Homo sapiens: one gene and its partners. The protein of the gene in region 1 purifies or fractionates together with the protein of each later gene. This does not show direct contact. Each region holds a gene or a part of one and is shown in the gene's direction. Other genes may lie near its edges. The genes, in order: TNFRSF25, RIPK1 and KDR.

Region 1 (3,040 bases):
AGTGAATAGTGTCTGTGGTTGTTACCAGGGACACAATGACAGGAACATTCTTGGGTAGAGTGAGAGGCCTGGGGAGGGAAGGGTCTCTAGGATGGAGCAGATGCTGGGCAGTCTTAGGGAGCCCCTCCTGGCATGCACCCCCTCATCCCTCAGGCCACCCCCGTCCCTTGCAGGAGCACCCTGGGGAGCTGTCCAGAGCGCTGTGCCGCTGTCTGTGGCTGGAGGCAGAGTAGGTGGTGTGCTGGGAATGCGAGTGGGAGAACTGGGATGGACCGAGGGGAGGCGGGTGAGGAGGGGGGCAACCACCCAACACCCACCAGCTGCTTTCAGTGTTCTGGGTCCAGGTGCTCCTGGCTGGCCTTGTGGTCCCCCTCCTGCTTGGGGCCACCCTGACCTACACATACCGCCACTGCTGGCCTCACAAGCCCCTGGTTACTGGTAAGTACACACACCCACACACGCACCCAGAAGCCTGGGGTCAGGATGGGTAGCCCAGAGTCTACTCAACCCTGATACAGAAGGGGAAACTGAGGCAGGGAGTGTGGGGTGCAGAGGAACCCTAGAGGAGCTGTACCAGCACCCAGGTCCAGGAGGCTTGCCTGGTGGCTGACCGCAATCTCTCTGTGTCTGTCAGCAGATGAAGCTGGGATGGAGGCTCTGACCCCACCACCGGTAAGAACCTCACTGTGTGATTCTGGGCTGCCTTCTGGAGCTGGAAGATCAAGCCTTACTATGATCCCTGGAGCTTGGCACGCGGCCAGCACCGGGTAGCCCTAGTGGACAGAGGTGTTGGGAGCAGAGTCATCAGTGGATGAGACCAGCACAGTGCCTGCCCTCAAGGGGTGCTCAGTCAGCTGGAGTTCAGATTCGTACACAGGAGCTAACAGTTCAATGGAAGGAGAGCCCCATGGTGCTGGGGGACAAGAGGAAGGAGGCGGGGGCAGGGGACTCAAGGCAGAAGCAAGAGTTCTGCTGGGCTACAGTGAGAGCAGGGCCAACTGTGGGAGGTGTCATTGCGGGGGTGTCTGCTGACTGAACCAGGGACTGTCCCCTCCTGGAGAGGCACTGCGGGTAAGGGGCCTTACTTGGCAAGCAGGGCTGACCTGGGGCCCCTCTTGGCTTCCAGGCCACCCATCTGTCACCCTTGGACAGCGCCCACACCCTTCTAGCACCTCCTGACAGCAGTGAGAAGATCTGCACCGTCCAGTTGGTGGGTAACAGCTGGACCCCTGGCTACCCCGAGACCCAGGAGGCGCTCTGCCCGCAGGTGACATGGTCCTGGGACCAGTTGCCCAGCAGAGCTCTTGGTAAGGGACATCAGTGGCCTGAGGCCTTGACCCCATTCTCCTGTCTGCGGTGGGAAGTTGTGGTTTCACAACGTGTTCCCTTTCTGCCCCCTAACTGACGGAGTCCGCCCTATGCCCTGACCCACCGGATCCAGCGGGCTTCAGCCCTGGGGTACCCGCACGAACGCCCCTGACTCTGCCTCCCGACCGCGGCCCACGTACCCCAATTGGCTCTCTCTGGCCCTGCCCCAGGCCCCGCTGCTGCGCCCACACTCTCGCCAGAGTCCCCAGCCGGCTCGCCAGCCATGATGCTGCAGCCGGGCCCGCAGCTCTACGACGTGATGGACGCGGTCCCAGCGCGGCGCTGGAAGGAGTTCGTGCGCACGCTGGGGCTGCGCGAGGCAGAGATCGAAGCCGTGGAGGTGGAGATCGGCCGCTTCCGAGACCAGCAGTACGAGATGCTCAAGCGCTGGCGCCAGCAGCAGCCCGCGGGCCTCGGAGCCGTTTACGCGGCCCTGGAGCGCATGGGGCTGGACGGCTGCGTGGAAGACTTGCGCAGCCGCCTGCAGCGCGGCCCGTGACACGGCGCCCACTTGCCACCTAGGCGCTCTGGTGGCCCTTGCAGAAGCCCTAAGTACGGTTACTTATGCGTGTAGACATTTTATGTCACTTATTAAGCCGCTGGCACGGCCCTGCGTAGCAGCACCAGCCGGCCCCACCCCTGCTCGCCCCTATCGCTCCAGCCAAGGCGAAGAAGCACGAACGAATGTCGAGAGGGGGTGAAGACATTTCTCAACTTCTCGGCCGGAGTTTGGCTGAGATCGCGGTATTAAATCTGTGAAAGAAAACAAAACAAAACAAAAACGGCTTCTTGGCGTTTCTGCGGGGCTGGGGTGTTAAGTGGACTGGACTTTTCTCGAGGGATTCGAAGGGGACGGGAATCTTGTCACCCCGGGATCTGGCACCCATGGTGGAGTCCAGTGTGGCCTTAGCTCCCAAGCCTGCCCCTCCCGAGTCCACTCTGGCTCAATTACCCCGAGAAGGAGAGAGCAAGTCGCGGCCACAGCGAGTGAGTGAACCGGAGCCCAGATGAGAGCGCTTTAATGGGGCTGCGAGGTGGCGGAGACAGGGTCGGGATGGGGTGCAGCAGTTGGAGACACAGGGTCAGGGCCCCTCATCCTCTATTCACTCCACCGGGGCAGTGAAAGGGTCCCGGCAGCGAGTGGGTCTGGCTGGGGACGGGGCGCAGACTTGAGGGAGGTGGGGCCAGAGGTGGGGTCCCGGGGGCCACAAGTGCGGCCCGGCCAGACAGGCAGTTTTCATGTTTCTGGTAAACAAATGACTGAGAGGAAACCCTTGGCGGGGATAAGAAATGAGGCCCGGGCTAGGCCGCGCGCAGATCTGGGTCAGAGAGGAAGGGAAAACCCCTTCCCCGAGCTCGGGGCCTGCCTCCACCCAGGATGCGCCAGCGACGCCGGTTCCGGGGTGCGGGGGAGGGGGCTGCATCCTGGAGGGGGCTGAGCCCCGCAGGAAAACAAAGTCACCACCCACGGGGCTGGGGAGAGCTCTGCACTCTTTGATAGTCAACGAACATGCAAATATATGTAAGTCGGCATGCAAATAAGCAGCATTTGTTGTTGTTTGCGTCAGCAGCTTGGGCACTTTTTCTGGGCAACCGTGGCGGCGTGTGCACTCCAGTGTTGCCAAGGGCTGGGGATACGGGGGGCCAGGGTGGGGGTCAGGGAGGGTTTCCA
Region 2 (3,652 bases), on another chromosome or scaffold:
ATTGTTTACTTCTGTCTGTATTTTAAAAATCAGTTTCCTTTGAACACATTCTTTCCATTGTCGTAAAGGGAACAAGGGAAAGGGATTTTTCTTTTGTTCATTCAAGGGCAGGATTTAGCTAGGGGGAGTGTCATATCTAATTGGCTTCTGCAGCAGGAATCCAAGCACAAGAATCCAAAAGGGGAAGCGGAAGGGGAAGCAGCCCTGGGGGAGGCACCCAGGAGCTGCTGACACAGGGGCCTCTCATCACCAGCAGGTTCTGCGTCTAGCGCTTTGTCCTAGTCTTGGACAAAGGGCTGGGAATAAAAATTCCTTATTCATAACCTATCTTCAAATTCATGACTTCCCTCTTATGTCGTGGGTTAGAATCTGTGAATTTTAGGTACTCATGTGCCACAGTTCATCCCCACATGCTTGCTTGGATTCCTGGAGGCAGAAGTGGAACTGGCACCTATATTCTCTTCTGAACTGTGCTGCCCTGTCATTTTGCCCTGCCAGCACTGTTCTTGTTCTGTGTCTGACCTTGCTATTTTTCTCTCTGCTTTTTTGTCTGTTTTTCTCCTCCTTTCCACCCTATCTCCTCTTAGGTTCAGGCTACAGCTCAAAACAAGCAACACTGCAGTCCTTATCCTCAGTGTGTCTTTGGGATCCTTGGACACTTGCATCCATGGGCCTCTGGACGCCATTTGGGGAAATAGAAGGTGTAGTATTTAGCCACTGTCTGCTGCATAAATGTGCAGAGAAGAAAATAACCATTTTCCCCCCAAGCCCTAGAAATAGTTGAAAAACATACGCAGAGTCAATGGGGAATGAGAATAAATATGTTTGGTTGTTACTGTTCTTGTCAGAAACATCTTCCGCTTTTCCCCTCCCCCTTACTGCATAAGGAATACGATACCAGAATTTCATGTGAACGTTTCCTGGGCGACATTTTACAAATGGCTGAGGAGACACACAGTTTCTATGAGTCTGTTGAGAAGTCGCTGTTTTGAACCTGCCCAGTGCAACCATTTCTGGAAAATTTACCGTACCTTATGTATAATGGATAAGCCCAAAATTGAAAGTCAGATCTGATTTGCTTACGGCCTTCACCAAACAATCCCAGTGGCTCAATGTCTTTCGCAGATCGCAGACCTCGGCCTTGCCTCCTTTAAGATGTGGAGCAAACTGAATAATGAAGAGCACAATGAGCTGAGGGAAGTGGACGGCACCGCTAAGAAGAATGGCGGCACCCTCTACTACATGGCGCCCGAGCACCTGAATGACGTCAACGCAAAGCCCACAGAGAAGTCGGATGTGTACAGCTTTGCTGTAGTACTCTGGGCGATATTTGCAAATAAGGAGCCATATGAAAGTAAGGCATTACTTACTTTCCACTGCCGTCCCCTCAGCATCTACACGCACTGTGCCTGGAACTAATAGGTGCCCAGTAAATTTTTGTTGAATGAATGAGTAATCCCATTTAGGAATCAGTGATCATAGGATGAATAGGAACCTCGATAGTGTGTCATTAGCTGGAGAGGTGCTGTGAAATTCCAGGGTTCTTCCTAGACAGGAAAGTTGATTGTTTCTGCTTGTGAGGACTTAGCCTTTCACACTACAAGGCATACACTTCATACTTTCACTCATTCACTTGCTCCTTCATTCAAGAATTATTTCTTTTCAGTCCCTACTGTGGGCACTTGAGTCGGCATTGGGAATATAAAGATGAGTAAGTCGTGGCTTGTGTAGGATAGAGACACTCTGCAGTTTGTTAAGTGCATAAACTGATGGATGTTGTCCTACATACTCTTCTTGGGTGATCATCAGCTCCCATGGTTTGATGATCATCTCTTTGCAAATGCTTCTTAAATCTGTGTCTCTGGCTCTGGAATGGATATCCACTTGTCTTACAGTCAGATCCATCGCAGGTACCAGAGGAACCTCCAAAGCAGCATCCCCCAAACACATCCTGTCGACACTGTCCTGCAGCTCGCCCCGCTTCACCCCTCTTCATATGCTTGGGAAGTGGCATCGCCATCCTTTTACCAAGTTGTTGCCCAATAAGAAACTTCAGAGTCATCCCAGACTCGCCCTTGCCCCTCTCTCCCACATTCTATCAGATCTCAAAACCTGTGAATTCAAGATATATGTATGACTCAAGATATATCTGCAACCCATCTGCCTTTCTCTGTCTCCACTGGCCTCTGCTCAGTTCAAACCCTCCTCGTTTCTGCAGCAGGCTCCTTCCACCGTCCACCATTCATGTGGCAGCCAAAATGGTCGTCCTAAAAGGCACATGCAACCCTCTCCCTCACATATTGGAAATCCTTCCCAGATGCTCTGTGGTCTTCAGGATGAAGTTCGAATTCCTCAGCGTGGAATAAAAGGCCTTCATGTTCTGGCCTTTGCTTCTCTACTGGCCTCGTCCCTAACCCTCCCTTCTTTGTCAGTGTGCAGTTACACTGAGGAATTTGTGGGATGCGTCATGATCTCTGTAACTTCTAGTCTGTTGATATCCTGCTTCTCTTCCTGGAGTCCTCCTCCTTAAGTCTCCCTTTCCCATTCTTTACCTGCTAATTTTTCTGGACTCAACAAAGCCTTCCTGGACCTTTTTAGTCAGGTTTGTGCTACTGGAACCCCTTGTACATCCTTTTTTTTTTTTTTTTCCCGTGAGACAGAGTCTCATTCTGTCGCCAGGTTGGAGTGCAGTGGTGCAGTCTCGGCTCACTGCAGCCTCCACCTCCCAGGTTCAAGCAATTCTTCTGCCTCAGCCTCCCGAGTAGCTGGGACTACAGGTGCACACCACCATGCCCAGCTAATTTTTATATTTTTAGTAGAGACGGGGTTTCACCATGTTGGCCAGGATGGTCTTGATCTCTTGACGTCATGATCCGCCTGTCTCAACCTCCCAAAGTGCTGGGATTACAGGTGTGATCCACCATGCCCAGCCTCAGCCTTCTTGAATAGCAATGATCACTCTGTGTTTTAAGTCACTCTCATTAAACTGAGCTCCTAAAGACAAGGACTGCCCTGTATTTGCTTTTGCACATGGAGCATGCCATTGGCCTTGCCCACATAATCTTTTTGTTCCATCAGCAGGCAGCTTTGTCGAGAATTTTGTTTTATCTGCAGACATTAAGATATTGTTTGGTCATCTCTGTAGTGGAATATGTCAGCTCCTTGTCATAAGGCCATTCCACTCTATGGAATGAGGCAGCTGTACCAGAGGCTGAGAAAAATGAGCAGTATTGTTCAAGTTCTGTCACCTTCCTGCCTGAGAGAGGAGCAAGACCTGAAAGAAAGTCTTTGCTTTGTAGATGCTATCTGTGAGCAGCAGTTGATAATGTGCATAAAATCTGGGAACAGGCCAGATGTGGATGACATCACTGAGTACTGCCCAAGAGAAATTATCAGTCTCATGAAGCTCTGCTGGGAAGCGAATCCGGAAGCTCGGCCGACATTTCCTGGTAAGAGCATCTTTTCTGACTGTGTAGGATGCATCCTGTGTGGTGATTTTCCTAGTAACATATTGTTAGGAACTTGGTTTGAATCCTCAGAAAACTGAGTTCGACTTGACTTGTGGTTTTAAACTGATTTTCTAGATTTCAAACATGTTATTCAGTGCAAAGAAGCCCTCTCTCTCAAAAGCATGATGGCACATAAGGCCTTC
Region 3 (3,652 bases), on another chromosome or scaffold:
TGGGACCTGAATTGTCTAGTTTGTTTGTCAAGTTGTAGTACATCACCTGGAACGGATAGAGCTTCATTTCTTTTGGTACTTTGTAGTAGTCTGAAAGCAGCAAGATGATAGTGAGCTGTACCAAGTTAAATCACCATTCAATAACTATGGCCTCTTCATTTTAGGGGGTCCTGAAATTACTTTGCAACCTGACATGCAGCCCACTGAGCAGGAGAGCGTGTCTTTGTGGTGCACTGCAGACAGATCTACGTTTGAGAACCTCACATGGTACAAGCTTGGCCCACAGCCTCTGCCAATCCATGTGGGAGAGTTGCCCACACCTGTTTGCAAGAACTTGGATACTCTTTGGAAATTGAATGCCACCATGTTCTCTAATAGCACAAATGACATTTTGATCATGGAGCTTAAGAATGCATCCTTGCAGGACCAAGGAGACTATGTCTGCCTTGCTCAAGACAGGAAGACCAAGAAAAGACATTGCGTGGTCAGGCAGCTCACAGTCCTAGGTAGGGAGACAATTCTGGATCATTGTGCAGAGGCAGTTGGAATGCCTTAAATGTAGTGCAATTCAGGTGCTATGCAAAGATTACTGTCCTCTAGGAGATTATGTTGTAAACTGGTGCACACTTCTTCACCGAAAGTCCTTGAGGAAGAAAGAAGCTAATAATAATGAAATGATATATCGAAAGGAGAAAATAACAAAACCTGATGATGGAGTAATTCACTAGTATATGCAAGGGATATTAGCTTGAACCAGGGAAACTTCTGCCTTATCTTGGGCATCCATTTATTTAAATAGACAAATATTTGTGGAATGCCTGCTATGAGCTAGGAGAGTGTCAGAAATTCACAGTGGTAAACATGAAGGAAAGGAGGAGAACATAGGCAACCACTGGGAAGTCACAGCACAGTGAGGTCTCTGTGTCCATGAGAACAGGAATTGTTCTCTGTTTTGCTCCCTGCTATAGCTCTAGTCATAGAGCATAGCAGCATATACTAACTGCTCAATAAGGCACCTGCTGCATGAAGAGTGGGATGATGGGCTGCGTTTAAGACCTAGAAGACTCCATGGGAAGGAAGCTACATTCACTGTCTGTACCTCTGGGTCATCCCACATGATCCAGCGTAGCCCAAGGTCAATGGGACGATCACTTCAGTGAGCAGATAGCTCTGTAAATTCCTCCATAGAGGCACTGTCTACCCCTTGTCTAACCTCATGCCTTGTGCAAAAGCTGGGCAGCCATGGCTTTGTCTGTGGGAAAATCAGGCAAATTTGGGGAGCGTCTCTTTGTGCCACTTCTCTCCATTTTCTCCTCTTGTGGTGTCCCTTTCCAATTCCTAGGATATATGTGCCCTCTGTTTTTTTTTTACTGTTAGGAAGGAAATTGCCCAAGTAAATTCATCTATACCACAGTTTTAGAGGGTAACGTCTTCATCAGAGGCCTTGGCGTATTTGAAGAGGCACCTTCTGACAGACACTAGCATAAAGTTCGCTAGTTTTAAGACTCAGGTGTCATAATAAGAGATACTTTGGGGTCAAGTCATCCCCAGCATCCTTCAAGTCACACCACATAGATCACATGGATTTTCTGTTGGCTTGTCTGGCTTCAAGGTTATGGCAGAATTGAGAAAGAGATGTGAAGTAGGCTCCTGGCCTAGCTGTGCCCAGAAAATATGTGCTCGCAGTTAGCTGCTTTGCTTCCCTAAGGACTCCTAACTTGTTTTCCTAAAACCTATTCTTAGAAATAGGCTAGAATCCAGTACATTTGCTTAGACTTCAATGTAGTACGCTGTTGAGGTAATCTCATTTTGCTAAGTGTTGACGTGGATTTTTTCAGCATGATTCCTTTTGATGTTCAGTTGGTTGGGACAAGATATTTCCACAGCACTTTGATGATCTGAAGAAAGAATAAATCTAAAGTGTTCTTGTACACTTAAACAAATACTCATGGGCTTCATTTTCTTTAAATCCAAGACTTCCCTTAGGGTATTGTTGTTTTGTTTGTGTTTTAGTGGAAATAGCACTGAACTGGTCTTTTAGCCTCACCAGATTCTGTAAACAGTTCAACTGTTTACTTAGTTGCAGGGACATGGACAAGTGGTTTAATGTCGCTGAACATCATTTATTTCATCTGTGAGATAACGCTAACAGTCCTATTCTGCTCATTACATAAGATCACTAGTGAGGAACACAAATTGTGTAAACAAGTTTTATAAGAATTGCCAAATAAATGTAAGGCATTATTGGTTGAATGATACTAAAATTTGGCACTTCCAAGAGAAATTTGAAGGGATTCTAGGGTATTATTGACTAGAATCTTCATGGGAGGGAAGTTTTCACCTGGGGAGGCTGTGTCTAATTAGAGGAAAAATCCATAAAGGTGACCCTGAACCTTTCTTTTGTGATGGGATTACCAGCTAGTATCACTAATATGAATGTTAAAAGCCATTAATCTGTTTGCAGTGTCCTGACTGACTTGTTTCATTTAACTTTACCCAGTGACCAGTGTATTTTCCCAGAAGTTAATATATCAACAAGTTCCTTTTTACTAAATTTAAACTGTTTAAAAGTTTGCTGATACCAGAACCATTTCAAAAGTTATAATTCCATGTTCTGTGATTTTCTTTTTGTGTGTCTAGAGCGTGTGGCACCCACGATCACAGGAAACCTGGAGAATCAGACGACAAGTATTGGGGAAAGCATCGAAGTCTCATGCACGGCATCTGGGAATCCCCCTCCACAGATCATGTGGTTTAAAGATAATGAGACCCTTGTAGAAGACTCAGGTAAATAGAATTTGGCTATCACTCTTGGGTTGCAGAACTTTCCCAGGGATGTTATCTAAAAAGCCATATTATTTCTTGATGTAATGTAGAAAAAAAGCAGTATTGGTGTCCATGACCTGGCTCATTTCACAGACTTAGAATTGGAGTATGGGGCCCTGTTGAATTTTCATGAAAGCCATATAGGAGATTAGTCAGCAGTAGATCCCATGTGACTCTACAGAGTTAGATAATAGAACAAGATGAAGGGCAGCATTTATATTTTCTAAATTTCCCTGAAAAACTTCACAGACTACATCATCATAAATGAGAATGATCGTTTTCTTCCTCTGTTAGGCATTGTATTGAAGGATGGGAACCGGAACCTCACTATCCGCAGAGTGAGGAAGGAGGACGAAGGCCTCTACACCTGCCAGGCATGCAGTGTTCTTGGCTGTGCAAAAGTGGAGGCATTTTTCATAATAGAAGGTCAGTGGGATAAAAAAAAATGTGGTACATATACACCATGGAATGCTATGCAGCCGTAAAAAGGAATCTGATCATGTCCTTTGCAGCTGCATGGATGGAGCTGGAAGCCATTATCCTCAGCAAACTAACACAGGAACAGAAAACCAAACGCCACACATTCTCACTTATAAGTGGGAGCTGAACAATGTGAACACATAGACACAGGGAAGGGAACAACACACACTGGGGCCTACTGTGGGTTGGGGAGAAGGAGAGCATCAGGAAAAATAGCTAATGCATGCTGGGCTTAATACCTAGGAGATGGATTAATAGGTGCAGCAAATCACCATGGCACATGTTTACCTGTGTAACAAACCTGAGCATTCTGCACATGTATCCCGGAACTTAAAAGAAAAAAAGA

The links.
Region 2: the proteins of TNFRSF25 (region 1) and RIPK1 purify together in Homo sapiens (affinity purification with western blotting, with the first as the bait; one study listed by BioGRID). This does not show direct contact.
Region 3: the proteins of TNFRSF25 (region 1) and KDR purify together in Homo sapiens (affinity purification with western blotting; one study listed by BioGRID). This does not show direct contact.

Annotation. Positions count from the first base shown.
Region 1 is NC_000001.11:6,460,261-6,463,300, reverse strand, and holds the end of TNFRSF25 (tumor necrosis factor receptor superfamily member 25 isoform 2 precursor), read left to right. Parts: intron 1-153; coding exon of another isoform or gene 154-173; coding exon 174-229; coding exon of another isoform or gene 230-236; intron 237-330; coding exon 331-438; intron 439-634; coding exon 635-672; intron 673-1,126; coding exon 1,127-1,307; intron 1,308-1,538; coding exon 1,539-1,867; 3' UTR 1,868-2,115; coding exon of another isoform or gene 2,116-2,121; 3' UTR 2,122-2,515; downstream 2,516-3,040. UniProt on the Homo sapiens protein: Receptor for TNFSF12/APO3L/TWEAK. Interacts directly with the adapter TRADD. Mediates activation of NF-kappa-B and induces apoptosis. May play a role in regulating lymphocyte homeostasis.
Region 2 is NC_000006.12:3,081,960-3,085,611, forward strand, and holds part of RIPK1 (receptor-interacting serine/threonine-protein kinase 1), read left to right. Parts: exon of another isoform or gene 1-701; intron 702-1,125; coding exon 1,126-1,354; intron 1,355-3,299; coding exon 3,300-3,449; intron 3,450-3,652. UniProt on the Homo sapiens protein: Serine-threonine kinase which is a key regulator of TNF-mediated apoptosis, necroptosis and inflammatory pathways.
Region 3 is NC_000004.12:55,101,497-55,105,148, reverse strand, and holds part of KDR (vascular endothelial growth factor receptor 2 precursor), read left to right. Parts: intron 1-164; coding exon 165-506; intron 507-2,640; coding exon 2,641-2,787; intron 2,788-3,120; coding exon 3,121-3,252; intron 3,253-3,652. UniProt on the Homo sapiens protein: Tyrosine-protein kinase that acts as a cell-surface receptor for VEGFA, VEGFC and VEGFD. Plays an essential role in the regulation of angiogenesis, vascular development, vascular permeability, and embryonic hematopoiesis.